Linked DNA regions of Homo sapiens: region 1 is linked to region 2. Evidence: fine-mapped expression QTL. A gene starts in region 2. The other region holds a variant in brackets. All regions are shown on one strand. Distances are from middle to middle.

Region 1 (10,421 bases), 82 kb before region 2:
ATGTGCTCATCTCACAGCAAACCTGAGCAGCAATACCAGTACCATCTGTAAGATCTTGCTAAGCTATAAGCTCTACAAGGACAAGAGTCATATGTCTTCTTATCAGTGAAATTCGCAGAGCCTAATATAGGTCCAAAACATAATAAATACCTCTTGAATGAAAAACTACATAAAGATCTTGTGCAGAGTGGCCAAGATGATGTCCTTTGCTGTCAGAAATATCTGGATTCAACTATTAGTAAGTCTCTTCATCTGTGAGCTAGATAAAAATAATTGCTTTCTGAATTTTTGTAAGAATTCAGTAAAATAATGCATGTAAAGCATTTAATGCAATGCTTAGCACACATAGAATTCACTAGTGTTTGTTGCTATTATTAGTTGTCGTTACCAAACTTTGGTGTCACTTCAAACACCAAAACATTTTACATGAGGAAAATGTGCCTTTAAACCACAATTCTTTGAATACTTATGAGCCTGAATATTTTCTGTATTATATTGGCCATTGGGATTTGTGTGTATGTGTGATTTGCTTATTCATTTACCTAGGAAAAAATCTTCTGGACATTGGCCTAGGCAAAAAATTTATGGTGAAAACCCCAACAGCAAATGCAACAAAAACAAAAATAGACAAATGGAACTTCATTAAACTAAAAGGCTTCACACAGCAAAAGAAATAATCAACAGAGTAAATAGACAATGTGTAGAATGGGAGAAAATATTTACAAATTATGCTGCTGACTAATATCCAGAATCTATCTACAAGGAACAATTCAACAAGAAAAAAAAACTAAACTAAAAAAAAAAAATAAACATTAAAAACTGGGCAAAGGACACAGACATTTCTCAAAAGAAGAAATACAGGCAGCCAACAAACACATGAAAAAAATGTTCAACATCACTAATCATCAGACAAATGCAGGCAGCCAAATTAAAACCACAGTGAGATATCATCTTACACTAGTCAAAATGGCTGTTATTAAAAGTCAAAAAACAACAGATGTTAGCGTGCATGTGAAGAAAAGGGAACGCTTGGCTGGGCATGATGGCTCATACCTGTAATCCCAACACTTTGGGAGGTTAAGGCAAGTGGATCACTTGAGGTCAGGAGTTCGAGACCAGCCTGACCAGCATAGTGAAACCCTGTCTCTACTAAAAATACAAAATTAGCCGGGCGTGGTGGCACATGCCTGTAATCCCAGCTACTTGGGAGGCTGAGGCAGGAGAACCACTTGAACCCAGAAGGCAGAGGTTGCAGTGAGCTGAGATTGTGCCATTGCACTCCAGCCTGGGCAACAAGAGTGAACCTCCATCTTAAAAAAAAAAAAGAAAAAAGAAAAGAAAAGGGAATGCTTATACACTTTTAGAGGGAATGTAAATTAGTTCAATCTCTATAGAAAACAGCATGGAGATTTCTCAAAGAACTAAAAAAAGAACTACCATTTGACCTAGCAATCCCCTTACTGAGTATCTACCCAAAGGAAAAGAAATCATTCCATAAGAAAGACTCAGCATTATTCACAATAGCCAAGTCATGGAACCAACCTAAGTGTCCATCAATGCTTGACTAGATTTTTAAAATGTGGTGTATATGCACCATGGAATAATATGCAGCCATAAGAAATAATGAAATCATGTCCTTTGCAGCAACATGGATGGAGCTGGGGAACATTATCCTAAGTAAACTAACTCAGAAACATAAAATTACTGCATGTTTCCACTTATAAATGGGAGCTAAATAAGGAGTACACATGGACATAAAGAGGGAAATAATGGACACTGGGGATGCCAAAAGCGGGAAGGATGGGAGCGGGCAATGGTTGAAAAATTACCTATCAGGTACAGTGCTCACTATTTGGGTAACAGGCACACTAGAAGCCCAATCCCCACGATTACACAATATGCCCATGTAACAAACATGCACATGTACTCCTTGAATCTAAAATAAAGTAAAATTCGTAAAAAAGAATCTTACACAAAACATTAAAAATCTTTAACTCAAAATTTTTTTTAGGCCAGGCACAGTGGCTCACTCACAGTGCCTGTAATCCCAGCACTTTGGGAGGCCAAGGAGGGAAGATTATTTAAGGTCAGGAGTTTGAGAACAGCCTGGGTAATGTAGTGAGACCCTGTCTCTACAAAAAATAAATTTAAAAAAAAATTAGCCAGGCATGGTGGCACATGCCTGTGCTCTCAGCTACTCAGCAGGCCGAAGTGGGAGGAGCACTTGAGCCTGGGAGGTCGAGGCTGCAGTGAGCCGTGATCATGCCACAGCCCTCCAGGCTGGACATTGCAAGACCCTGTTTCAAAAATACCCATTTTTAAAATTAACTTGTTTTCCAGAGTAGAAATGTTAGATAGAATGTCTGTAAAATTTATTCCCAAAACAGGACATTTTCGAGAATAAAAGGGGTCATATAAATAATTAGGCTGAGACAAGAGGCATATAAACCAGGGCTACATTCACCTATTTACTGGAAGCTTTCTCAAATATATAGTGTGACATCATGTTACAAGTCCATTGGAAAGGTGTCTCAGTTGGTGCTATGTGCTAGATATTTGGTCACCATCTGACACCATTGTGTCCCTGATTGCCACTCCCCTGAACCTCCTTAAACTGTGCTTGGAGAAGAGTTACGTGAGACATACAATGGGAAGGGGCATGGGTGTCTAAGATTTCCTTTGGTTTTAGAAAAAAATAGCTATGAGAATACAGAGGAGTTGTTTTCATTTGCTATCTCTGTTAGTGACACCCTTCCAGGTCGGTCTCCCACCCACGGGCAGCTTTGAATGAGATCAATGGCAATTGAAACTGTTTGGATCTGAGCAAAGCTGCTTGGATTTTCACTGGATCTTTCTGCAAATATGATATATGTTTCATTGGTCAACTATCACTTTCTAAATCTTCAATCTTAATTTTTCAAAACTTGTCATAATACAGTTTCCCTCTAATAACAGCCATGTAAGCATGACTTAAACTGGCTTCTACTGCTTAAGCAAACCTCAGTAGAGGAGAAAATAGATGTATTTATTTATTTATTTTGTAATAGAGTCTTGTTCCGTCACCAGGCTGGAGTGCAGTGGCATGATGTCGGCTCACTGCAACCTCCGCCTCCTGGGTTCAAGCAATTCTCCTGCCTCAGCCTCCCAAGTAGCTGGGACTACAGGTGTGTGCCACCATGCCCAGCTAATTTTTTGTATTTTTTGGTAGAGATGGGGTTTCACCATGTTGGTCAGGCGGTCTCGAACTCCCAACCTCAAGTGATCTGCCTGCCTCAGCCTCCCAAAGTGCTGGGATTACAGGCGTGAGCCACTGCGCCCAGGCTTTTTTTTGTTTGTTTGTTTTTTTCTTTGAGAGGGAGTCTCACTTTGTCACCCAGGCTGGAGTGCAGAGGCATGATCTCTGCTCACTGCAACGTCCACCTCCCAGGTTCAAGGGATTCTCCTGCCTCAGCCTCTCAAGTAGCTGAGATTATGGGCGCCCATCACCATGCCCGGCTAATTATTTTTTGTATTTTAGTAGAGATAGGGTTTCACCATGTTGGCCAGGCTGGTCTCAAACTCCTGACCTCAAGTGATCCGCCATCTTGGCCTCCCAAAGTGCTGGGATTGCAGGCATGGGCCACTGTGCCTGGCCGATGAATACATTTTTAACCTCCTCCCTGGTGTGGTGGCTTAAATAATGAAGTTAAAGCTGAGAAACAATAAATGGGACTTTTGACTACTGTGATAGCAAACAGGCATTTCAGAATTGTAGAGGTGAATGAGATTTTAGAATTCATCTAATCCAGCCCATTTACTTTTTTTTTTCTTTTCTTTTCTTTTTTTTCTGAAATGGAGTCTTGCTCTGTCGCTCAGGCTGGAGTGCAGTGGCGAGATCTCAGCTTGCTGCAATCTCTGCCTCCCAGGTTCAAGTGATTCTCCTGCCTCAGCCTCCCAAGTAGCTGGGACTACAGGTGCCGGCCACCATGCCTGGCTAATTTTTTGTATTGTTAGTAGAGACAGGGTTTCACCGTGTTAGCCAGGATGGTCTCGATCTCCTGACCACGTCGTGATTTGCCTGCCTCGGCCTCCCAAAATGCTGGGATTACAGGCATGAGCCACCGCGCCAAGCCCAGCCCATTTACTTCTAAAATGAGGACACCAAGGCTAGTGTGTTAAATGACTTATCTAAGGAGGAACAGGTAGTCAAGGTTAAGCTGAGATAGCTACTCATGTCTGTGACTCCTAGTCCCATGGTCTTTGGACCACGACTCAGAAGCACATTTTGTTATGGTTGTGAGGATGAAGGAAGTAATATTTGACTTTTCTGCAAACATTATGTAAATACAAGGTATTTGTTCCCCTTATGATGTTACAGAACATTAATGAGTGAGATGTTTCCAGACTTATTTCTCATTTTGGTAACTAACCAGTCAGTGCTTATAACAGAAAAACATAAAGTCCGTATTGAAGACACTGAGAAAAAAAGACAAAAATAGTTTTAATCAAAATAGAATTGCTCTACAAAACATAGAATGATTGCTTATTGTTTTGTTTCTTCTCCAATGGAGATATAAATTCACTTGGCCTTGATGGAGGGACAATGATGAGTTGATTGATTCACTTCTACTCTGTCAGAGAGACCAGAAAATTACTAAGGTAACTTGATAAATAGGAAAATTCCAAAATGATCTTCACTGAAGACATTATCCATTTGATCTAAGCTTTTCAGATGCAATCACAATAGTGTCTCCAAGATCCTCTTTCTAAGAGGGAAGCCTGCTTTTCTCATCACATTAGCAAACAGCCAGGCGGATTCGTTGCTTGCCAGTCATGGCTGAATTACAGTCCCGACAACATGGCCTGGGAAAGAACATGCTGGTAGGGGACTGCGGCGGCTATCACCAAGCTCAGAGCAGAAGGGGTGGATGTTGGGGAAAGGGTTCTGCGAGGAGAAAAATTCACTGCAGCAGGAGTGAAGGGAGACACAATTACATATTGAAAGGGGAAAAGCTGTTTGAATTCTACTCTACACCTCAATCACCACCCTCCTACAAGGGATGTCTTTCCCTTGGTCATATTCTCAACAAATGTTTCTCTCCCACAGCCCCCTCCTAATCTGCATGTTCTTCAACAGCTACCTAGGAGTCACTCTCTCTCTGCTCCAAAAATTGGGCGTGGAAAAGGAGCCCAATCAGAAAGAGGAAATGAAGAAAGAGGAAGTGAAGAATAAAACTGCTCAGAGAAAAATAACTTCATAGAATAATATTATCTCCATGAGGACAGGAATCTTTCTTTCATCCATGAATATATCCTAAGCCATTAGAACAGTGCCTGACTGATCAAATAATTCTAATAAATATCTGTTAAATGAATAAGCAAACATCTATGTCCTTAACCCACTAGAATGGTAGGAAATTGTTTCTCCATCATTATTAGCCTCCTTCCCGCTTCTAGGGTTTTACCAAAATTTGATCAACGTGCCCCAGGAAATAATATCTCTAATTTCCAATTGGTTCTGATCATTCTAGCCATCCTTGTTGGCCAAGCCTTCAGTGGTTCTCTGAGACCTCCAGCTGGCACTCAGGGGCTCTCCTGCCTCAAATGAAGCAGAGGAACCTTAGGCAAAGCCAGGAGCCCCAGGCTGGAAGTGTAGCAGGAGGTCGTCCCTTTGAGGCCAGGGAGCAATGCACAGCTCCTCTGGCAAACCAGGGCCATAGCCAGGGCTCCCTTGCCCAGGTTTGGGGCAGGGGCACTCTCTTTAAGCTGGAGAATCCTACCTCTTTCTCTTCTCTAAGCTTATTTCCTTAAACTTCATCCTATCTTAGGCTTTTGACTTTTGGAAACAAAAGTTACAAAGAGTTCCAGGATGACTCTGTATTCCTCCCCGACTTGTACTTTCCCCAAGGCACTGACACACAGAACTTGCTACAAATGGACAGTTAAAATGAAGAGAGGAAAATGAAAGATTTTTTATTTCTTTGTTTTTTTGAGACGGAGTCTCACTCTGTCACCCAGGCTGGAGTGCAATGGCGTGGTCTCAGCTCACTGCAACCTCTGCCT[T/C]CCGGGTTCAAGCGACTCTCCCGCCTCAGCCTCCTGAGTAGATGGGACTACAGGCGTGTGCCACCACACCTGGCTAATTTTTGTATTTTTGGAAGAGACGGGTTTTCACTATGTTGGCCAGGCTGGTCTCGAACTCCTGACCTCGTGATCTGCCCACCTCGGCCTCCCAAAGTGCTGGGATTACAGGCGTGAGCCACCGCACCCGGCCTGGAAAATGAAAGATTTTTAAACCCATAAATATCTCAAAACATTATCCAGCCATATGGTATGGGACCAGGTGCATAAAGTTAAGGCAATGCTGAGACCTCCAGGTTATTCCACTGGCTACAACAGCAGCCTAAAAGAAAGAAAGAAAGAAACTTGGGGTATCCTTCTCTAAACTCTAATATAGAAAGGAAATGCATATCTAGTAACATGTTTCTTTGTCTAATTATCCTCCTACAATCAGCATCTTAAAATAAGCTAATCTCTTATAAAAAATTTTTGGATGTTAATATGACCATCAGCTCAAAAAGCATTAAAGCCACTTCAATCAAGGGACACAGACTAGGTTTCAAGACACTTAGCTCACATAAATTTCTATAAATTTTAATAGAACTTAATGGTCTTTCCATTTTTTTGTGTGGGAAGGGTAAGCATTATTGATTTTACATTTTAATACATTTTAGGGGCATGATGAACCTGGACAGTAAAAGCATCCTTCCTTCGCCCTACCTAATGCAGAGGAGCTTCCTGAAAGAAATTAGTTTGGAATGAAAGGGGAGCAACTGCCTTGCAGGTAAGGATGGGCAGAGTGGGAGGATCTTTAGGACTTTAGATGTAGGTTTCAAGAAAAACAGCAACATGAAAGTCATGTGTGAGAAGATGTAATTATGAGGCAGATTGAGTTATAAATTATTATACAAAGACAACAAAGACATGAAATCAATCTTTAGAAATGATTCTTCCCAAGTAATAGGAGATAGGAATGTCATGGAAATACTTCAACTGGAAGAAAAGCCATGGAAATACTTCAACTGGAAGAAAAGCCATGGCCTTTCTGCAATAACCTACAATTTCTTTTTCTTTTCTTTCTTTTTTTTTTTTTTGAGATGTTGTCTCACTCTGTTGCCCAGGCTGGAGTGCAGTGGTGCTATGTCGGCTCACTGCAACCTCCGCCTCCCAGGTTTAAGTGATTCTCCTGCCTCAGCCTCCTGAGTAGCTGGGATTACAGACGCCCGCCACCACGTCTGGCTAATTTTTGTATTTTTGGTTGAGACGGGAGTTTCACCATGTTTGTCAGGCTGGTCTCAAACTCCTGACCTCAGGTGATCTGCCCGCCTCAGCCTCCCAAAGTGCTGGGATTACAAGCGTGAGCCACCATGCCCGGCCGTAACCGGGCATGGTTACGTAGGTTTACAATTATAGGTTTACAATTTCTATTTCTTGTTCCTATCCACTCCCTTTTGCATCTGATGTCACCAATAATCTTCTCCAAGGAAAAAAAAACAGAAAACACAAATAAGAATTATATTTTATAGTGATTATAATGATCAGAATTCCTCAGACTTCTTTCTGCTGTCATTTTGCTGTGATGTTCGAGCAGCTCATATTTCAGCCCTAATCAGATCTCTGCTGTAATCTGAATATATATTTAATACAATGCTAGAGATAGAGAAATTTTCAAAGTTAAGTAGAGATCAGTTAAAATACCATTACTGTTTACTCTGTGTCTTTTGAATTCTATTATATTTATATTTGTTTACATTTTGAAAACCAAGCCATTTAAAACAGGGATCCCTTCAAAGAGAACATTTATGTGGCATTTTGTTGCAGGAAAAGGTAACTGTAAAACACATGTGCCTCTAATTCAAGGCCAGTTAACCTCAAGTTATTACAGTTGAGATAAATCATATTTTTAAAAATACTTTTTAACCCTTGTTCACTCACTTTTTAAGCCAATAAAAACAGCAAGAATTAACTTGGTCACTTTTTTGTAACCCAAATGCAAACCATGGGTGCAATCCCATAAAATTTTAGCCACGGATATAATTCCAAAGGTTTGAAAGTCCCATCTTCTTTATTGCTCCTGTCTTTGGGACAAAGCCCAATTTCCCCTATAATACCAACACAAATTATAAAAAGAGAGTAATTGATCTCACTGTATTTTCCAAACTTGTTGCTTGTTACTGTCATTAAGCTACTGTCAAGTCTCATCTAGCACCTCCTGTGACACCACCTTCTTTTTTTTTTTTTTTTTTTGAGACGGAGTTTGGCTTTCGTTGCCCAGGCTGGAGTGCAATGGCATGATCTCGGCTCACTGCAACCTCCACCTCGTGGGTGCAAGCAATGCTCCTGCCTCAGCCTCCCAAGTAGCTGGGATTACAGGCATGCGCCACCATGCCCGGCTAATTTTGTATTTTTATTAGAGATGGGGTTTCTCCATGTTGGTCAGGCTGGTCTCAAACTCCCAACCTCAAGTGATCCGCTCACCTCAGCCTCCCAAAGTGCTGGGATTACAGGCGTGAGCCACCGCACCCGGCCCGACACCACCTTCTATATCAGACTTTGCTGCCTCTTCATGAGATGCAACTAAACTTAAGAGACAAAGCAGAGCTCAAATCTATTTTTAAAAGACTTTATAATAAATTGTAATCCCAGGTAGAAATTTTCTATTTCTCATTATCCACAAAATTCTTCTCCATTAAGCACAGGTCATCAAGTAACCCTGACATCAAGTAACCCTGGCATACTGTTGTAACAAGTAGGATTTTCAAATTACTAACACACCTGTAAAAGCCAGAGAGTTGTGTGTCACCAGAAACACATGTGTGCCCTATGTATTAAGGTACTAAATAGAAAGCACCATTTGCTGTGTGTGTGACAGTACTGATTCCATGTTAGAAGAAAGCTTGCTTACTTGAATACAATTATTACTTTGCTTGATTTTGTAGATCATTCACTAAAATCAGCCTCAGAAAAACAGGATCTTGAACAGAGATAAAAGAAAATACCTAGATCAGCCTCTCTGTGAATGGGCTGACCGACCTAATAAGAATAGGCTGATGGTACCTGCAGAAAGCCACAAAATATTGACCAAGAAAGCAATGATTTACTGCCGACCTGAGACTGCACACGTTTCACAAAAATCTTTTTATCATCCTTTCTCTTAATTGCCCTTAAAAACCAGAGGTGGTCTTTGAACGCTAGCTCACTGCATCCCCCAGGGTTGCTGGTCTCTTGAATAAAGCTAACTTTACTTTCACTACAGCTCTTCTCTTGGGTTTTTGGCTTTCAAGTGACAAGTGGCCCAGATGTGAGTTTCCTTACGTGTGCTCAGGAGAATTTCCTGCCATACCTACTGAAATCTGTCCCTGATCAAAGTGGTGGACCATATGACTGCAGATTGGCCTTGCGAAGTAGCTCATGCCTGTAATCCCAACACTTTGGGAGGCAGAGGTGGGAAGCTTGCTTGAGGCCAGGAGTTTAGGACCACCCTGGGCAATACAGTGAGACCCCCGTCTCTACAAAAACAAAAAATAAAAATTAGCCAGGCATGGTAGTCCACACCTGTAGCTCCAGCTACTTGGGAGGCTGAGGCAGGAAGATCGCTGGAGCCTAGGAGTTCAAGGCTGCAGTGAACCATGATCCTGCCACGGCACTCCAGTGTGGACAACAGAGTGACACTTAAAAAAAAAAAAAACACTGAAGATCAACAGGTTATGATTGCAAATTTTAAGATATTTTGAACACACTATTTTCTTAAGCAGTTGGGAGTATGTTTAATAGCCTATTGAATGAGTATCTCAAAATCCTATTGAAGTTACTATTTGGCAATGAGAAACTAATTCACTGATAATTATACATGCAAAGAAACTAATTATTAAAATAAGTTTTCATTTTGTTAGATAACTTTATAACGTTAAAAAATGGAAAAGTCCTGTAGGGAATGATTTGGAACATGGCCCAGATCCCAGTCACAGGACCAAGGCACTCAATCCCCCAGCTGCTGGGAGTGTTGGTTGCTTATTGCTCACAGCTGAGTCCCTTCCTGCACATCTCACTCTCCAAAAGCCTTAACCCAGCGTTTTGCTTCCTCCCCAGAAACATCCCACATTTAATGAGCAGTCAGTAAGAGGGTCTAAAGGTCTGCCCCCTGGCCTCAATTCAGGATGACTCTGAAAGGAAATCCCGGCTCCAGAGCCCTTACTGGATTGCCTGAGGCCTCTATTACAAATTGTTCACAGTTCAACTTCTTTCTCCCTCCGCCCAACCCGGCCTCCCTCACTCCATTATAGGTGTTGTTCTTAAGAGCACACTCCAATTACCCTCCTGCAAACCAGTCTCCCCCCCAACTCAGAGTCCAGGGAATTCTACCTAAGACGATTTTGAAAGCGGTC
Region 2 (17,174 bases):
TAACTTAAAATGGTTAAGATGCCAATAAAACCTGAAGCAACCTATAGAGGCAACACAATCCCCATCAAAATCCCAACTGTCTTGTTTACAGAAATGGAGAAGCCAAATCTAAAATTCATACGGGGCCCACACAGTGGCTCACGCCTGTAATCCCAGCATTTTGGGAGGCCAAGGTGGGCAGATCACCTGAGGTTAGGAGTTTGAGATCAATCTTGCCAACGTGGTGAAACCCCATCTCTACTAAAAAAACAAATATTAGCCAGGCATGGTGGTGGGCACCTGTAATCTCAGCTACTTGCAGCCTGAGGTGGTTGGATCGCTTGAACCCAGGAGGCAGAGGCTGCAAGTGAAACGAGATCACGCCACTGCACTCCAGCCTGGGCGACAGAGTAAGACTACCTCTCAAAATAAAATAATATAAAATAAAATTCATATTGAATGACAAGGGACCCCAAACAACCAAAACAATTTTGAAAAAGAAAAACAATGCTGGTAAAGTTACACTTCTCAAATTTTAAATATACTCCAAAGCTACAGTAATCAAAGCAGAATAGAACTGAGAATCCAGAAATAAACCCATATAATAAATCTTTGGCTGGCCAGGCATGGTGGCTCATGCCTGTATTCCCAGCACTTTGGGAGGCCGAGGTGGATGGATCACCTGAGGTCAGGAGTTCAAGACCAGCCTGGCCAACATGGCAAAACCCCGTATCTACTAAAAAAAAATACCAAAAAAAATAGCCCGGCGTGATGGCAGGTGACTGTAGTCTCAGCTACTTGGGAGGATGAGGCAGAAGAATCGCTTGAACTCAGGAGGTGGAGGCTGTAGTGACCCAAGACTGCATCATTGCACTCCAGCCTGGGTGACAGAGTGAGACCCTGTCTCAACAACAACAACAAAATCTTTGCTCAACTGATTTTCAACAATGCCAAGACTATTCAATGGGGAAAGAACAGTCTCTCCAACAAATGGTACTAGGTCAACTGGAGAAGCACGTGCAAAAAAAATGAAATGAACCCCTACCTCATACCATACCAAGATGTACTCAAAATGGATCAAAAGCCTAAATATACAAGCCAAAACTATAAAATAATTAGGGGAAAAAACATTAAAAAATAAAAAAAAATCTTCACGGCTTTGGATTTGTCAATGCCTTAGATATGACACCATAAAGCAATAAAAGGAAAAAAAAAGATAAATTAGCCTTAACCAAAAGTAAAACCTTTTGTGTATTGAAGGACACTAACAAGGAAGCAAAAAGACAAGGCCGGGTGTGGTGGCTCATGCCTATAATGCCAGCACTTTGGGAGGCCAAGGCAGGCGGATCACCTGAGGTCAGGAGTTCAAGACCAGCCTGGCCACCTGGGCAACAGAGCGAGACTCCATCTCAAAAAAAAAAAAAAAAAAAGAAAAAAAAGAACTCTTACAACCTCAACAATAAGACAACCCCAACAAACACATGAAAAGATGTTCAACACCATTAGTCATTAGGGAAATGCAAAACAAAACTTCACACCCATTAGGATGACTATAATCAAAAACAGATAATAACAAATGTTGACAAAGATACAGAAAAACTGCACCCTTCAAACATTGCTGGTGGGAATTTTAAAATGGTGTAGCTGCTGTGGAAAAGTGGTTGCTCAAAAAGTTAAACAAAATTACCATAGAACCCAGTAATTTTACTCCTAGGTATATACCAAAATAACTGATAACAGGTACTCAAATACTTGTACACCAATATTCACAGCAGCACTATTCACAACAGCTAAAAGGCAGAAACAACCCAATTGCTCATCAATAGGTGATTGAATAAACCAATGTGGTTTATACATATAACAGAATATTACTCAGCCATTAAATGGAAAAGAAAGAAGAGGGAGTGACAGCTCAATAGTAGTTTTCTTTCGTGATGAAATTGTTTTGGACCTAGACAGAGATGTCATTATGAATGCACTAAATGACACTGAATTATACATTTTATAAAAGGGCTAATTTTGGCTGGGCACAGTGGCTCACACCTGTAATCCCAGCACTTTGGGAGGTCGAGGTGGACGGATCACCTGAGGTCATGAGTTTGAGACTAGCCTGACCAACATGGAGAAACCCTGTCTCTACTAAAAATACAAAATTAGCCAGGCATGGCACATGCTTGTAATCCCAGCTACTTGAGAGGCTGAGGCAGGAGAATCACTTGAACCCGGGAGGTGGAGGTTGCTGTGAGCCGAGATCGCGCCATTGCACTCCAGCCTGGGCAACAAGAGCAAAACTCCATCTCAAAAAAAAAAAAAAAAAAAAAAGGCTAATTTTATGTTCTGCAAATTTCACCTCAATTTTGTTAAGTTAAAAAAAAGCAGCAGCTCATAATCTATACAAAAAAAGAGAAAAACATAAATTTATCTAAGAACACAAGAAAACAATGCATAAGCAGGAATTAAATTATAGTCAATAAATGCTAAAATGTAGACAGCAGTGCTCATGGAGAAAAAAAAGAGAGAGGGACATCAAACTATGAAAAAAGTTGTCCATAAGAGAAGGAAATGGCATAGGTGTCAAAAAGTGCTGTTTTTCAAATAAAGAATTCCAGAATGATTTAGCGCTTAAAAAAAAAAGATAACAACAAGTGTTGATAAGGATGTGCAGAAACCTGAACCCTGGAGGGGATGTGAAATGGTGCAGCCACGGCTGGGCGCAGCAGCTCACGCCTGTAATCCCAGCACTTTGGGAGGCCGAGGTGGGTGGATCATTTGAGGTCAGGAGTTCGAGACCAGCCTGACCAATATAAGGAAACCCTCGCCTCTACTAAAAATACAAAAAGTAGCCGGGCAGTAGTGGCGGGCACCTGTAATCCCAGCTACTCAGGATGCTGAAGCAGGAGAACGCCTTGAGCCTGGGAGGCAGAGGTTGCGGTAAGCCAAGATAGCGCCACAGCACTCCAGTCTGGGCGAGAAAGTGAGACCCTGTCTCAAAAAAAAAAAAAAAAAAAGGTGCAGCCACTATGGAAAACACTTTGGTAGTTTTTCAGAAAGTTAAACGTAAGAATTATCATATGAATCAGCAAGTCTACGCTTAGATATATACCCAAGAGAATCAAAAATACACATTCACTGACCGGGCGCGGTGGCTCACGCCTGTAATCCCAGCACTTTGGGAGGCCGAGGCGGGTGGATCACGAGGTGAGGAGATCGAGACCATCCTGGCTAACACGGTGAAACCCTGTCTCTACTAAAAACAAAAAATTAGCTGGGCGTGGTAGCGGGCACCTGCAGTCCCAGCTACTCGGGAGGCTGAGGCAGGAGAACGGCGTAAACCCGGGAGGCGGAGCTTGCGGTGAGCCAAGATCACGCCACTGCATTCCAGCCTGTGTGACAGAGCGAGACTCCATCTCAAAAAAAAAAAAAAAATACACATTCACACAAAAACTTGTAAACGAATGTTCGCAGAGCATTATTTATTCATAATAGCCAAAAAATAGAAACAACCCAAAAATTCATCAATTGATGAATAAACTGTGCTGTATCTATACAATGTAATATTTATTATTCTGCCATGCTACATAATGGATGAACCTAAAAAACATTATGTTGAGTGGCTCATGCCTATAATCCCAGCACTTTGGGAAGCTGAGGCAGGCAGATCACTTGAGGTCAGGAGTTCGAGACCAGCCTGGCCAACATGGCAAAACCTCGTCTCTACTAAAAATACAAAAAAATTAGCTGGGTGCGGTAGCACGCGCCTGTAATCCGGGCTGAGGCAGAAGAATCACCTGAACCCGGAAGGTGAAGGGTTGCAGTGAGCTGAGATTGTGCCATTGCACTCCAGCCTGAGCAACAGAGCAAAACTCTGTCTCAAAAAAGAAAAAAAAAAAGAATTATGTTGAGCAACAGATGCCTGGCACAAAAGATCAAATCACATATTATAGGATTCCACTAATGTGAAATATCCCAAATAGGCAAATCCATACAGACAAAAAGTAGATTAGTGGTTGCCAGTGATACCTGCTTTTTCCAGTATCATGCATTTTAAAATCCAATGATTCACTAATATATTTTTCAAATTAGGATCTAGGAACCATCTGTATCAGAGTCACCGATGGACCCTCACCCACGTGGGGCTTATAAAATCAAAACCTGTCAGAAGCTGGGGGAGGACAAAACGGGGGTGACTGCTTATGGGCAGGAGTTTTCTTTTTCAGGTAATGAAAATATTTTGGAATTACACTATGGTGGTACAACTTTGTGAACATACTAAACGCTGCTGAGTTGTGTATACTTTATAAGGGTGAATTTTGTGTTACATGAATATTTCAGTATTTTTAATGTTAAATTTTTAAAAGTTGATTTGCAAATTAGAAATTAAAATCCAAATTACTGGCCGGGCATGGTGGCTCATACCTGTTATCCCAGCAGGAGGCTGAGGCAGGCAGATCATTTGAGGTCAGGAGTTTGAGACCAGTCTGGCCAACGTTGTAAAATGCTGTCTCTACTAAAAATACAAAAATTAGGCCGAGCACAGTGGCTCATGTCTGTAATTCCAGCACTTTGGGAGGCCAAGGCAAGTGGATCATGAGGTCAGGAGTTCGAGACCAGCCTGACCAACACAGTGAAACCCCATCTCTACTAAAAATACAAAAATTAGCTGGGCGTGGTGGCATGCACCTGTAATCCCAGCTACTCAGGAGGCTGAGGCAGGAGAATCACTTGAACTCGGGAAGCGGAGGTTGCAGTGAGTTGAGATCGCACCACTGCACTCCAGCCTGGACAACAGAGCAAGACTCCATCTCTAAAAAAATAAATAATAAAATAAAATAAAATCCAAATTATTTTTAGGCTAGGTGCAGTGGCTCACACCTATACTCCTAGCACTTTGGGAGGCCAAGGCAAGAGGATCATTTGAGCCCAGGAGTTTGAGACCAGCCTTGGCAACATAGTAAGGCAGCGATTTTAAATTTAAAAAAAAAAATTAGCCAGATGCGTGCCTGTAGTCCCAGCTACTCAGGAGGCTGAGGCAAGAGGACTGCTTGAGCCCAGGAATTTGAGGTTACAGTGAGCTATGGATTATGCCACTGCACTCCAGCCTGGGTGAAAGAGCCAGACCCTAAAAAAATAAAAATAAAAAATCCAAATTGTTTTTCCTTTTACATTTGTCTGAATTACTGAAGATAGAATGCTGAAATCACTGAAATAAAAGGAAAAGTGTAAAGTACATTACTAGGAACACTAAGCCAGAGTCTCAGGTTAATGTCATCTGTATTCGGATACCTATATTGGGTGGTAGTTTAGATTACATACCTGGAGGGCTCCCCTTTCCAATTCTTAATTTAAGAAATAGGATTAAATTTCCCAAGTTGAGTCACAAAAGTTGTTTTAAGTCTTATCTCCTCTACTTGCAAAGTTACACCATGGTCTAAAAGTATCATCAGCCTTCTCTCTCTCCCCACTGTGTCTGTTCATTTCACACAGATGGTCTCTACTAGAAAAAATAAAAGCAATTTATTTAGCTAACACATAAAACATGTGAATGACTGATAGCTGTAAACAGGATTCCCTCACCTCCACTCCTCCAAGTCCCTAGCCCCCAAATGAGTGTTACTTGGGCATTTCATAAAACCAAAGTTTAAAACATTTAGGGGTCAGCAATGGTTGCCTGGGAAGTGATATATTAAAGCAAGAATGCCACCAAAGTCAGCATGGTACTGGATGGTAGTATGCCATAGATTCAACCTCCCCTAATTTTCCTGCTTTTTCCAGTATCATGCATTTTAAAATCCAATGATTCACTAATATGTTTTTCAAATTAGGATCTAGGAACCATCTGTATCAGAATCACCTATGGTCCCTCACCCAACCCAGGCTTATAAAATCAAAATCTCTGGAGACAGGATCCAGGAAACTTAGTTTCAAAGTGATTCTTAGGCCAGGCGGGGTGGTTCACACCTGTAATCCCAGCACTTTGGGAGGCCGAGACGGGTGGATCACCTGAGGTCGGGAGTTGGATACCAGCCTGACCAACATGGAGAAACTCTGTCTCTACTAAAAATACAAAATTAGCCGGGCGTGGTGGTGCATGCCTGTAATCCCAGCTATGTGGGAGGCTGAGGCAGGAGAATCACTTGAAGCCGGGAGGCAGAGGTTGCAGTGAACCAAGATCATGGCACTGCACTCTAGCCTGGGCAACAAGAGCGAAACTCGGTCTCAAAAAAAAAAAACCAAAGTGATTCTTAATACACACTCAAGTCTGAGAATCACTGTTCCAAAAAGTTCAACAAGATAGAAACTGAAGCCATTTAAGGTATGGATAATATGTAGGATAGAGACTACACTTGAAGTTGTTTTTTAATTTTTTTTTGGAAGAATCAGGGTCTCACTCTGTCGCCCAGGCTGGAGTGCCATCGCAGAATCATAGCTCACTGCAGCCTCAAACTCCTGGACTCAGGCAATCTTCCCAAGTAGCTGGGACTACCGGCACACACTACACACCATAGCACCTGGCTAATTTATACCTGTATTCTGAAGACACAATTACTGCCGATAGGTATACTAGGCAGAACTAAGTACAGAACACTTATATGTCTGGAACTCACTCACTACAATTACTTCATTAAATATAAATGTGAGGTATACATATATGTTACACAACACCAAAGAGTAAAAATGGCAGACATCACAAAGTAATGGTATACTAGTATTCAAACCAAGAAGAGATTCTTGTTTCCCCAACACACTACAAAAAAGGCGGGGGCGGGGGGGCGGTGTGGGGAGAAAATAGGGGCGGGGGGGGCGGTGTGGGGAGAAAATAGTTTCTATTCTCTCTCTTTCTGCTGGGGTGCAGTGACATGCACTCCTGCACGCACCACAGCCTCAACCTCCCAGGCTCAGGTGATCCTCCCACCTCAGCCTGCAGAGTAGCTGGGACTACAGGTTCGCACCACCATGCCCAGCTAATTTTCGTATTTTTCGTAAAGATGGAGTTTCCCCACGTTGCCCAGGCTGGTCTTGAACTCCTGGAATCAAGTGATCTGCCTACCTCGGATAATTTCTATTCTGTATTTCTTCTGTACTTGAGTAAAAGACTGATTATCAGCTAATAAGAACTTAGATGGAAATAACCCTCATTAAATCAAGTAGAAAAACTGACCTCTTGAGAAATTTCAAACACCAACATGCAAATATAGCATATAACTGTCAGTACTAGGATGGTTTTTGCACATGTTAATGGCTTTCAGAAGGATGGGATCTTTACTTTTCTCTCCTGCCACTCTGTATTTTGCCAACAGGTTTACTGACCAAAATAAACTCTATTTTGTGTAAAAAGAAAAAAACAACTTATTGATTTTAAACTATTTATGCTGACACACTATATCCCTAATTCTTTTACTTCCTCATGCTTAAAAAGCACTGAGACTCTCTTTTAAAAGTATGTGGAAAGTTTCTAGTGTGCAGCTAGAAGACACTTCTGAATCACTTACTATCAAAGACTTAATTTATATTATCTCTAACTTTTTACAAAAACAGGTTAGTTTTGATGATAAAAGTCCCAGTGTTTTAAAACATTGTGGTTAGAGTGAGCAATATTTACTCAAAATATTTACAGAGCACTTACTATATGTCCCAGACTGAACAAAATTATGTTCAATAAAAAATAATCCTCGTAATTTGTTTGATGCTTCTGAGTCTCCAAACATTACAAATATTGTTACAAATACTAGAATACGTAGGCAAGATTGAGCAGAATCTTTCCCAATCCTATCGCAGACCAAGGAAATGTGTTTCTAAAACAATTTCTATTGCTTCAACTATTTAAAAGCCAAAAAAACAAACAAACAAACAAACGAGTACAGGGTGTCTATAGTTTCCAGTGTTTGGATAGCCACTAATACTTTGAACAGTAAGTTCCTTCTGATAGCACTTATACCCTATACTATGTACCTCCTGGAAAATGATGGGGAAACCGCTCCTTCTCAATAGAAAAGATACTATTAAGAAATGAAAGCACTTAATATCAATATACTAATTTCTAAAATCCGTTTCTCTGAACTCTAATCGAAGTAGCAGAGAAAAGGAAAATTATACTTCTCCTCTGTCACTCTAGAAATAACAGTTATTTTGCCAACATTTCTGCATTCAAAAAAAAATGAGTTAGCTATGAGAAGACCAGAGAAACTGATGCCCAATTTAGGTCACGATCACAAAACTGTGGAAGACAAAAAGCACAGCCTACGCAGAAAAATCGGATATTCCTTCCCAACACCCGCAGAACTCTAGATACACGTTTTGTTTTTCTTTTTTTAAAATGCTGCTTCGGCGTTCTCGAAACCTGGTGGAATTATACTGCAGGAAAACACTGGCGCTCACGCACCGTAGCGTCTCTCAGCCTCAACAGAGCGATTCCAAAACTAACTCCGCAGTCCCTGGGCAAGGCAAGGAGGGAAATAAAACACCCGTCTCACGAAAGCCAACAGTGATGGGAACAGCCAGCCCACCGAGCCCAGCGAGACCCGAGTGCCCCGCGCGTCCCCCAGGTGCCCTTGGAGGCAGCGGCACGCGGACGAGGCCGCGCCCGGTCCCAGCGGACTCCAGTTCCGCCCGCCGGCCCCATCCTTCCCTCTCCTGTCCCCGGGACCCGCCGGGCTAGCCAGGCCCGCCGCGCCGGCTCCGCCCCTGGCCGGGCCCCGGATTCTCCGCCTTGATGCAACGCTGCCCCGGGAGGGCGGGTGCGGCAGAGCCCGGAGAGCCCTGGGGCCCCCAGCAAGGCCCTCCTCCCACAGGCCCCAAAGGCTGGCGCGGGAGTGGGCGCTGGCGCGGGAGTGGGCACTGCCGCAGCACCGACCAGGCCTGCGGCCGGGGTCTGGCCCGAGCGAACGCCGCCTGCTGCTCTCACCTGCGTTCCCACTACGACGATTTGAGGCAGCTGGATGATGTCGGCGCCCACCGTGTTGAAGACGTCCTGGAGCTTGTTTATGACAGGAATTAGCGCCTCCATGACTCTGAAAACACGGGGCCCCAGTGCCCGCCGGCCACGGCAATGAATGGGGCCGGGGCCCACAGTTCGCCTCCTTCCTCCTCTCCTCCGCCCTCTCCTCGGAAGCCGGCACCCATTGGACCGGGCCCGCCGGCTACCTGCCCCCTCCCGGCAGGCCATGCGCTGCGAGGGAGGTGGAGAGGAGCAAGGCCTGCTGGGAGTTGTAGTTCTGGAGCGGAGGAACGCTACTCCCCACAGCTTCCAGGAGGCTGCGCGGCACCGGTGGGCCCTAGCCTGGGACTGGGATGCTGCGCAGGCTCTAGTCAAAGGCTAGGAGCAGGCCGGGAGCGCAGGAGGAAGGCCGTAAATTTATGCCTGTCCTCAAGGCACGATGGATGTGACAGTGCTGGGTGTGAATATGTGTTAAAGGCGCAATGGTGTGTCTCTTAATTATCCAGTGTCACTTCCTTTTATTTATTTTTTATTTATTTATTTTTTTTTTTTTTTTGAGACGGAGTCTCACTCTGTCGCCCAGGCTGGAGTGCAGTGGCGCGATCTCGGCCCACTGCAAATTCCGCCTCCCGGGTTCACGCCATTCTCCTGCCTCAGCCTTCGGAGTAGCTGGGACTACAGGCACCCACCACTACGCCCGGCTAATTTTTTGTATTTTTAGTAGAGACGGGGTTTCACTGTGTTTTCCAGGATGGTCTCGATCTCCGGACCTAGTGATCCACCCGCCTCGGCCTCCCAAAGTGTTGGGATTACAGGCGTGAGCAGTGTGACTTCCTTATGAAGACACTTTCTCTAGAAGGACGGGTTGGAAAGGCTTAAAGAAAAGCTTATGGCCGCAAACAACCAAACTGGGTGCAAAAAAATCTGCACGCTGATACGAGAATGTGTGGGGTGTTATTTTGCAAAAATACAAAAACCAGCCCAGGTTAGAATACGCGGGTTCTCCAGGGGTTTTGTAAACAAACAAACAAACAAACAAAATGTGTGTTCAGGACCGAGCGCGGTGTAATCCCAGCACTTTAGGAAGCAGAAGCAGGAGGATCGCTTGAGCTGGGAGTTCGAGACCAGCCTGGTCAACATAGTGAGACCTCATCTCTACCAAATAAATAAATAAATAAATAAAAAAGCAGGGGTCGGAGCAGCGGGGGGCGGTGTTCATGAAAAAAATCTTAGAGTATTGGAGTTTTACAGGGGAAGAGCTGGGCATTTATTATCAATATTATGTATAAACCTTTATTTGCTGTAGCCTGATTCCTGGCAAAGTAGACATCTGATAACTGCCTTACTCACTCTTTGCTCATACCGTTCTTTTTTTTTTTTGAGACAGAGTCTGACTCTGTCGCCCAGGCTGGAATGCAGTGGCGCAATCTCGGCTCACTGCAGCCTCCTCCTCCCAGGCTGAAGTGATTCTCCTGCCTCAGCCCCCCAAGTAGCTGTTATTACAGGCACCCGCCACCACCCTGGGAAAATTTTTGTATTTTTAGTAGAGACGGGTGGGGGGCGGGGTTTCACCATGTTAGCCAGGCTGGTCTCGAACTCCTGACCTCAAGTGATCCGCCCATCTTGGCCTCCCACAGTCCTGGGATTACAGGCCTGAGCCACCATGCCCGGCCCATACTGTTATATTTCTAAATGTTGTTTTTCTTTTTAGACAGATAGTATCCCTCCTCTACTCCAAACCTCCAAAGGTAAAAGTAAACCTCAAAGTAAAAAGGTGACATTTGAGTAAAGAATTAAAGCAGGTGAGGAGAGGCCAGGCACCGTGGCTCACGCCTGTAATTCCAGCACTTTGGGAGGCCAAGGCAGGCGGATCACTTGAGGTCAGGAGTTCAAGACCAGCCTGACCAACATGGAGAAACCCCGTCTCTACTAAAAATACAAAAATTAACCGGGCGTGGTGGTGCATTCCTGTAATCCCAGCTACTCAGGAGGCTGAGGCAGGAGACGGGCAGATCACTTGAGGTCAGGAGTTCAAGGCCAGCCTGGGCAACACGGCAAAACCCAGTCTCTACAAAAAATACAAAAAAATTAGCTTGCCTGTCGTGGTGGTGCATACCTGTGGCCCCAACTACTTGGGAGGCTGCAGTAGGAGGATCACCTAAGCTTGGGAGGTGGGGACTGCAGTGAACTGTGATCGTGCCACCGCACTCCAGCCTAAGTGACAGAGTGAGGCCCTGTGTCAAAAAAAAAAAAAGAGAAAAGAGAAAAGAAAACATAATAAGAGCACTTTTTCCAGTCTGAGCAAGAGGATAGAGATTCGAGAAAGACTTCCTAGAAGTTACTAAATTTAATCTCCATGAGGACAAGAACCACCAGCAGTAGTGGAAGTTGTGCACTACGCAACTCCAGTGGGTGCCATTCACCTGCTTAGCTGTACACAATGGCTGCGGGGAACATGCTTGATTTGTTCAGCAGGACAAATGGCAGGTGCTTAATAAATATCTGTGAACAAATGGATGAAGTAAGCCAAGACCTAAAGATCCATTAGTGGTGTTTTGGCATCTTGACAGGTTTTGTGAACATCTCCTCTTTGATTATTTTCAAAAAAAAAATTTTTCAGAGATAAAATAAGACAAAAATTTCAGAACTCCAAAAAACAGTTTTATTCCAAGTCTCTTGACTTTCTACCAAAGATAATATTACATAATAGTCAGATATTACCCACTTTGCTTCTCACCCCTCTGTTGATGGAGCTTTTGTTTTCTTCTAAAGAAAACAGAAGGCCGGGCACGGTGGCTCATGCCTGTAATCCCAGTACTTCAGGAGGCCAAGGTGGGCATATCACCTGATGTCGGGAGTTCAAGACCAGCCTGACCAACATGGAGAAACCCCATCTCTACTAAAAATACAAAAATTAGCTGGGCGTGATGGTGCACGCCTGTAATCCCAGCTACTCGGGAGGCTGAGGCAGGAGAATTGCTTGAACCCGGGAGGCAGAGGTTGCGGTGAGCCGAGATTGCACCATTGCATTCCAGCCTTGGCAACAGGAGCAAAACTCCGTCTCAAAAAAAAAAAAAAAAAAAAAGAGCCAGGCCCGGTGGCTCACGCCTGTAATCCCAGCACTTTGGAAGGCCGAGGTGGGCGGGTCACCTGAGGTCAGGAGTTCAAGACCAGCCTGACAAACATGGTGAAACCCCATCTCTACTAAGAATACAAAAAAAAAATTAGCCTGGTGTGGCGCGTGCCTGTAATCCCAGCTACTCGGGAGGCTGAGGCAGGAGAATCGCTTGAACCCGGGAGGCAGAGGTTGCAGTGAGCCGAGATCGCGCCACTGCACTCCAGCCTGGGCGGCAAGAGCAAAACTCCAACTAAAAAAAAAAAAAAAGAAGAAAAAAAACCAATTTCGGCTTTCATGTTTTAAGTTCAGAACACTCTTGTTTGTGGGAAATCAATTTAACTAATAAGTGGCTAAATGGATTTCCCACAAAAAAGAGTCTTTGTGCATCTAAGAATAATGTGTTCTTCAGTGGCTTCCTGTGGGAATCACATTAAACCATTATCGGATATCAAAAGGCCTTTAAAAAAACCTCTTCTCGGCCAGGTGCGGTGCCTCACACCTGTAATCCCAGCACTTTGGGAGGCCGAAGTGGGTGGATCACGAGGTCAGGAGATGGAGACCATCCTGGCTAACACGGTGAAACCCCGTCTCTACTAAAAATACAAAAAATTAGCCAGGCGTGCTGGCACGCGCCTGTAGTCCTAGCTACTGGGGAGGCTGAGGCAGGAGAATTGTTTGAACCTGGGAGGCAGAGGTTGCAGCAAGCCAAGATCGCGCCACTGCACTACAGCCTGGGCAACAGAGTGAGACTCTATCTCAAAAAAAAAAAACAACAACAACAAAAAACACCTCTTCTCCTGCAACCATCCCTCTCTCACCATAGCTTTATGATTTAGGCAGGATAGCTAATTGTAAGGACAGAAATTTAATTCTGAGCTAACTTGCCTCAAAAATGACTGAATGTCTGGGCGCAGTGGCTCTAGCCTGTAATCCAAGCACTTTGGGAGGCCGAGATGGGTGGATCAGTTGGGGTCAGGAGTTCAAGACCAGCCTGGCCAACATGGTGAAACCTCGTCTCTACTAAAAACACAAAAATTAGCTGGGGGTGGTGGTGAGAGCCTGTAATCCCAGCCACTCGGGAGGCTGAGGCAGGAGAATTGCTTGAACCCGGGAGGCGGAAGTTTCAGTGAGCCAAAATCACGTCACCGCATTCCAGCCTGGGTGACACAGTGACACTCCACCTCAAAAAAAAAAATGACTGGAACTAGGAGCTCAGGCAGAATCAGAGCTCTACATCTTATCACTACATCGTCTATTTCATTCTCTCACGCAGTTTACTCCTGTGGAATGAGGTGAGTGTGCTGTGGGGGAGGGTGTAGGGGATCTCATTCAGCAAGCTGTCTCACAGCAGATGAGGCAGAGAGAACTGGGGAGGAACTGAAACCTAGGAACCTGGTTTCTGCCTTGCTTCTCTAGTATATTAGTTCCCTATTGCTGCCTTAACAAATTACCACAATTTTAGTGGCTTAAAACAACAAAAATGTGGCCAGGCGCAATGGCTCACTTCTGTAATCCCAGCACTTTGGGAGGCCGAGGCGGGCGGATCACGAGTTCAGGAGATTGAGACCATCCTGGCTAACATGGTGAAGCCCTGTCTCTAGTAAAAATACAAAAAATTAACCGGGCGTGGTGGCGGGTACCTGTAGTCCCAGCTACCCGGGAGGCCGAGGCAGGAGAATGGCGTGAACCTGGGAGGCAGAGCTTGCAGTGAGCCAAGATCACGCCACTGCACTCCAGCCTGGGCAACACAGTGAGACTCCATGTCAAAAAAAAAAAAAAAGTATTGTTTTACAGTTCTATAGTTCAGTAGTCTCACACAGGTCTCACTGGACTAAAATCAAGGTGTCACCAGGGCTGCAAACCCTCCTAAAGCCTCTAGCAGGGAATTCACCTCCTTGCCTTTGTTAGGGGCCCCCTGCATTCCTTGCTGGTTACCTCCTTCCAACCTCTTCAAAGCCAGCAATGTCGCATCTCTTTAACTCTTCTGCTGTCATCAGGCCTCTGACCCCCAGAAAAGCTTCTCTGTGTTTAAGGGCCCATCATTAGATTGGCCAACCTGGACAACCCAGGATAATATCCCTGTCTCAAGGCCTGTACCCTTAATCACATCTACAGAGTCTCTCCTGAGACATAAAGTTCACAGGCTCCAGGGATTAGGACATGGACTTATTGGAGGGGCCTACTGCACCTGGTTAAGGTGATTGGTCTAGGGATGGACCTGCAGGACCATTTAGAATCCTTCTCTGAGAATTTCCTAACCTGAATTTGAACAAAAATATTTTCTCTCTCTGGTTATAGAACTGTAAGCATGTGAGTCAATGTCTCCAAAGATCATGTTTCCTATCTCATGGAATAAATTGGTTTGCAAGAATAAACTTCTTTATTCACCTTGAAGAACTTCCCCAAATTCAGTAACTTACCCATATATATACATATATATATATATTTTTTTTTTTTTTTGAGACAGAGTCTTGCTCTATCACCCAGGCTGGAGTGCAGTGGTGCAATCTCAGCTCACTGCAAGCTCCGCCTCCTGGGTTCACGCCATTCTCCTACCTCAGCCTCCCGAATAACTGGGACTACAGGCGCCCACCGCCACACCCGGCTAATTTTTTGTATTTTTAGTAGCGATGGGGTTTCACCATGTTAGCCAGGATGGTCTTGATCTCCTGACCTCGTGATCTGCCCGCCTCAGCCTCCCAAAGTGCTGGGATTACAGGCATGAGCCACTGCGCCTGGCCAACTTTCCCATATTTTTAAATGTACATGTGCTGTACAGCACATAACATCAGAATTCTAATCCCCATAGTTAACCATATGAATTTCTCCATTTTTCCTTGTTGCCCTTTTCACACAATATTATTGAACTATTATTTAAGTGCTTATTGTATGTGAGGCACTATACTAAGCATTTTATCAGAGCCTCGTGAAGTAGGTTTAGAGATGTAGAAACGGAGGCTCCAGGGATTGAAGTGAAGTGGTAAATTTACACAGCTAGTATGTGGCAGAGATGGGATGAAAAGGGGCTTTTTGGCAAACCCCCTTTTTTTTCTTTTTTTTGAAACAGTCTTACTCTGTCGCCACAGTGGTGCGATCTCAACTCACTGCAACCTCTGCCTCCCAGGTTCAAGCAATTCTCCTGTCTCAGCCTCCCCAGTAGCTGGAACTACAAGCGCACACCGCCTCGCCAGGCTAATTTTTGTATTTTTAGTAGAGACTGGGTTTCACCATATTGGTCAGGCTGGTCTTAAACTCCTGACCTCAGGTGATCCACCCGCCTCGGACTCCCAAAGTGCTGGGATTACAGGTGTGAGCCACCATGCCCGGCAGCAAACTCTCAACCGCTACACATTCTGCCTCGTGTATTTATTCCTTTCTTCATTAATTCAACACATATTGATGAAGTACTTGTTAGGCATACGGATCTTAGCCAGGCAGTATATTTTGCTGGAGAGTAGGGAGGAACCGTGGATATGGCACTAACATGCCCTCCCCCTTCACCAATAGTGAGCTCACGAAGGGCAGAAGTGATTATCTTATTTAGCTGGGTTCCCCCACTACCTCGTATGAAGCGTGTTACATAATATTAGTCTACTGGATATGGGGTTTTCTTTTCTTTTTTATTTGGAAAATCTGGAATAACAAGGATTTAAGCAGCTCTGAATTGATATAATTGCAACCAGGACTGGCAATCAAATCTCACCAACACATATGAGTCTGGCTTGGCATAGGACTCCTCATTAGAATAGATGCCAAGTTACTTAGCTAGGGAGTAGCCTGGCTTTGTTCTAACTTAAAATCCCGAATTAGAGGAAGTTTATTTTGGATTAAATTAATAACTGGAAATTAATCGATCTTGGAAAAGGTCAGACTGTTTTTATCGCATGTGTCCAATATCATTTTATGCCAACATTTTGATCATCAATCACAGCCAAGATGCCGGTATCTGCACCTTCAAATCATAGCGGTTAGTGGGGATCTAATGTTAATATAAAATATACAGCTCTGTTGGGGAAGCCTCTTTGTCATATTTTGGAAACTGCCCGTGTTTTGCAAAGATGATAAAGTAAACAGCTTTAATCAATTTGCTACTCCCCAGGCCTCAAGCTTAACACATACTTTGTTAGCAGGTGCAGGAAATTGTTTGCAGATGGTGGAATTGGCCAGATGGTTCAGAAGCCAGAAATTGAATCTGGTGAGATACTGACGGGACCATGAGAGGGCAGTGTGACAACACAATTAAGAGCAGTTAACGACAAAATAACTTGGGAGTTAAGATATGGTCCTGATTTCTTCCCTTTGCTCCACACCCACACCCCAATAGAACGTAGCCCTTCTTTTTATCCTCCTACCATCAAAATTTGTGGCATATTTTAGAAACTATTTGAGATAATAGAGTTATTTTATTTATATTTATATATTTATTTTTGAGATCAAGTCTCGCTCTGTAGCCCAGGCTGGAGTGCAGTGGCACAATCTCAGCTCACTGCAACCTCTGCCTCCTGGGTTCAAGGGATTCTCCCACCTCAGCCTCCCAAGTAGCTGGGATTACAATAGGCGTGGGCCACTCGCCAGCTAATTTTTGTATTTTGTTTATTTATTTTTTTGAAAGACAGAGTTTCGCTCTTGTTGCCCAGGCTGGAGTGCAATGGCATGATCTCAGCTCACCGCAACCTCTGCCTCCCGGGTTCAAGTGATTCTCCTGCCTCAGCCTCCCGAGTAGTTGGGATTACAGGTATGCACCACCACGCCCGGCTAATTTTGTATTTTTTTAGTAGAAACGGGGTTTCTCCATGTTGGTCAGGCTGGTCTCGAACTCCTGACCTCAGATGATCCGCCCTGAGGTGTTAGCTAGACATCCAAAGTGCTGGGATTACAGGTGTGAGCCACTGCGCCCGGCTGTATTTTCAGTAGAGACAGGGTTTTGCCATGTTGGCCAGGCTGGCCTCAAACTCCTGACCTCAGGTGATCCGCCCATCTTGGCCTCTGAAAGTGCTGGGATTACAGGCATGAGCCACCACGCCCAGCAATAGTGATTTTAAATTACAGCAGTGACAACTGAAAATTATATGTTAGACATCCCTGCATTTAAACTACTTCACTTGCCCCATTTCTCAAGCCTTCTCATTAGCCTCTTTACAA

What was found. PIP is the estimated chance that this variant, and not a neighbour inherited with it, causes the effect.
Region 1: its variant is fine-mapped to the expression of DNM1L in T cells (TOPMed, PIP above 0.99).

The regions. Positions count from the first base shown.
Region 1 is chr12:32,756,656-32,767,076 of GRCh38, reverse strand. No RefSeq gene overlaps it. Among named protein-coding and RNA genes, the nearest start is that of YARS2, 6.0 kb to the right of the region's middle. RefSeq lists an enhancer at 10,321-10,421. The variant T/C (reference allele first, on the strand shown) is at 6,043.
Region 2 is chr12:32,671,173-32,688,346 of GRCh38, reverse strand. DNM1L (dynamin 1 like) reads right to left here and starts at 9,046. Exons shown (of 20, transcript NM_012062.5): 1 at 8,882-9,046. The coding sequence starts at 8,983. RefSeq lists a silencer at 8,489-8,898 and an enhancer at 12,954-14,153.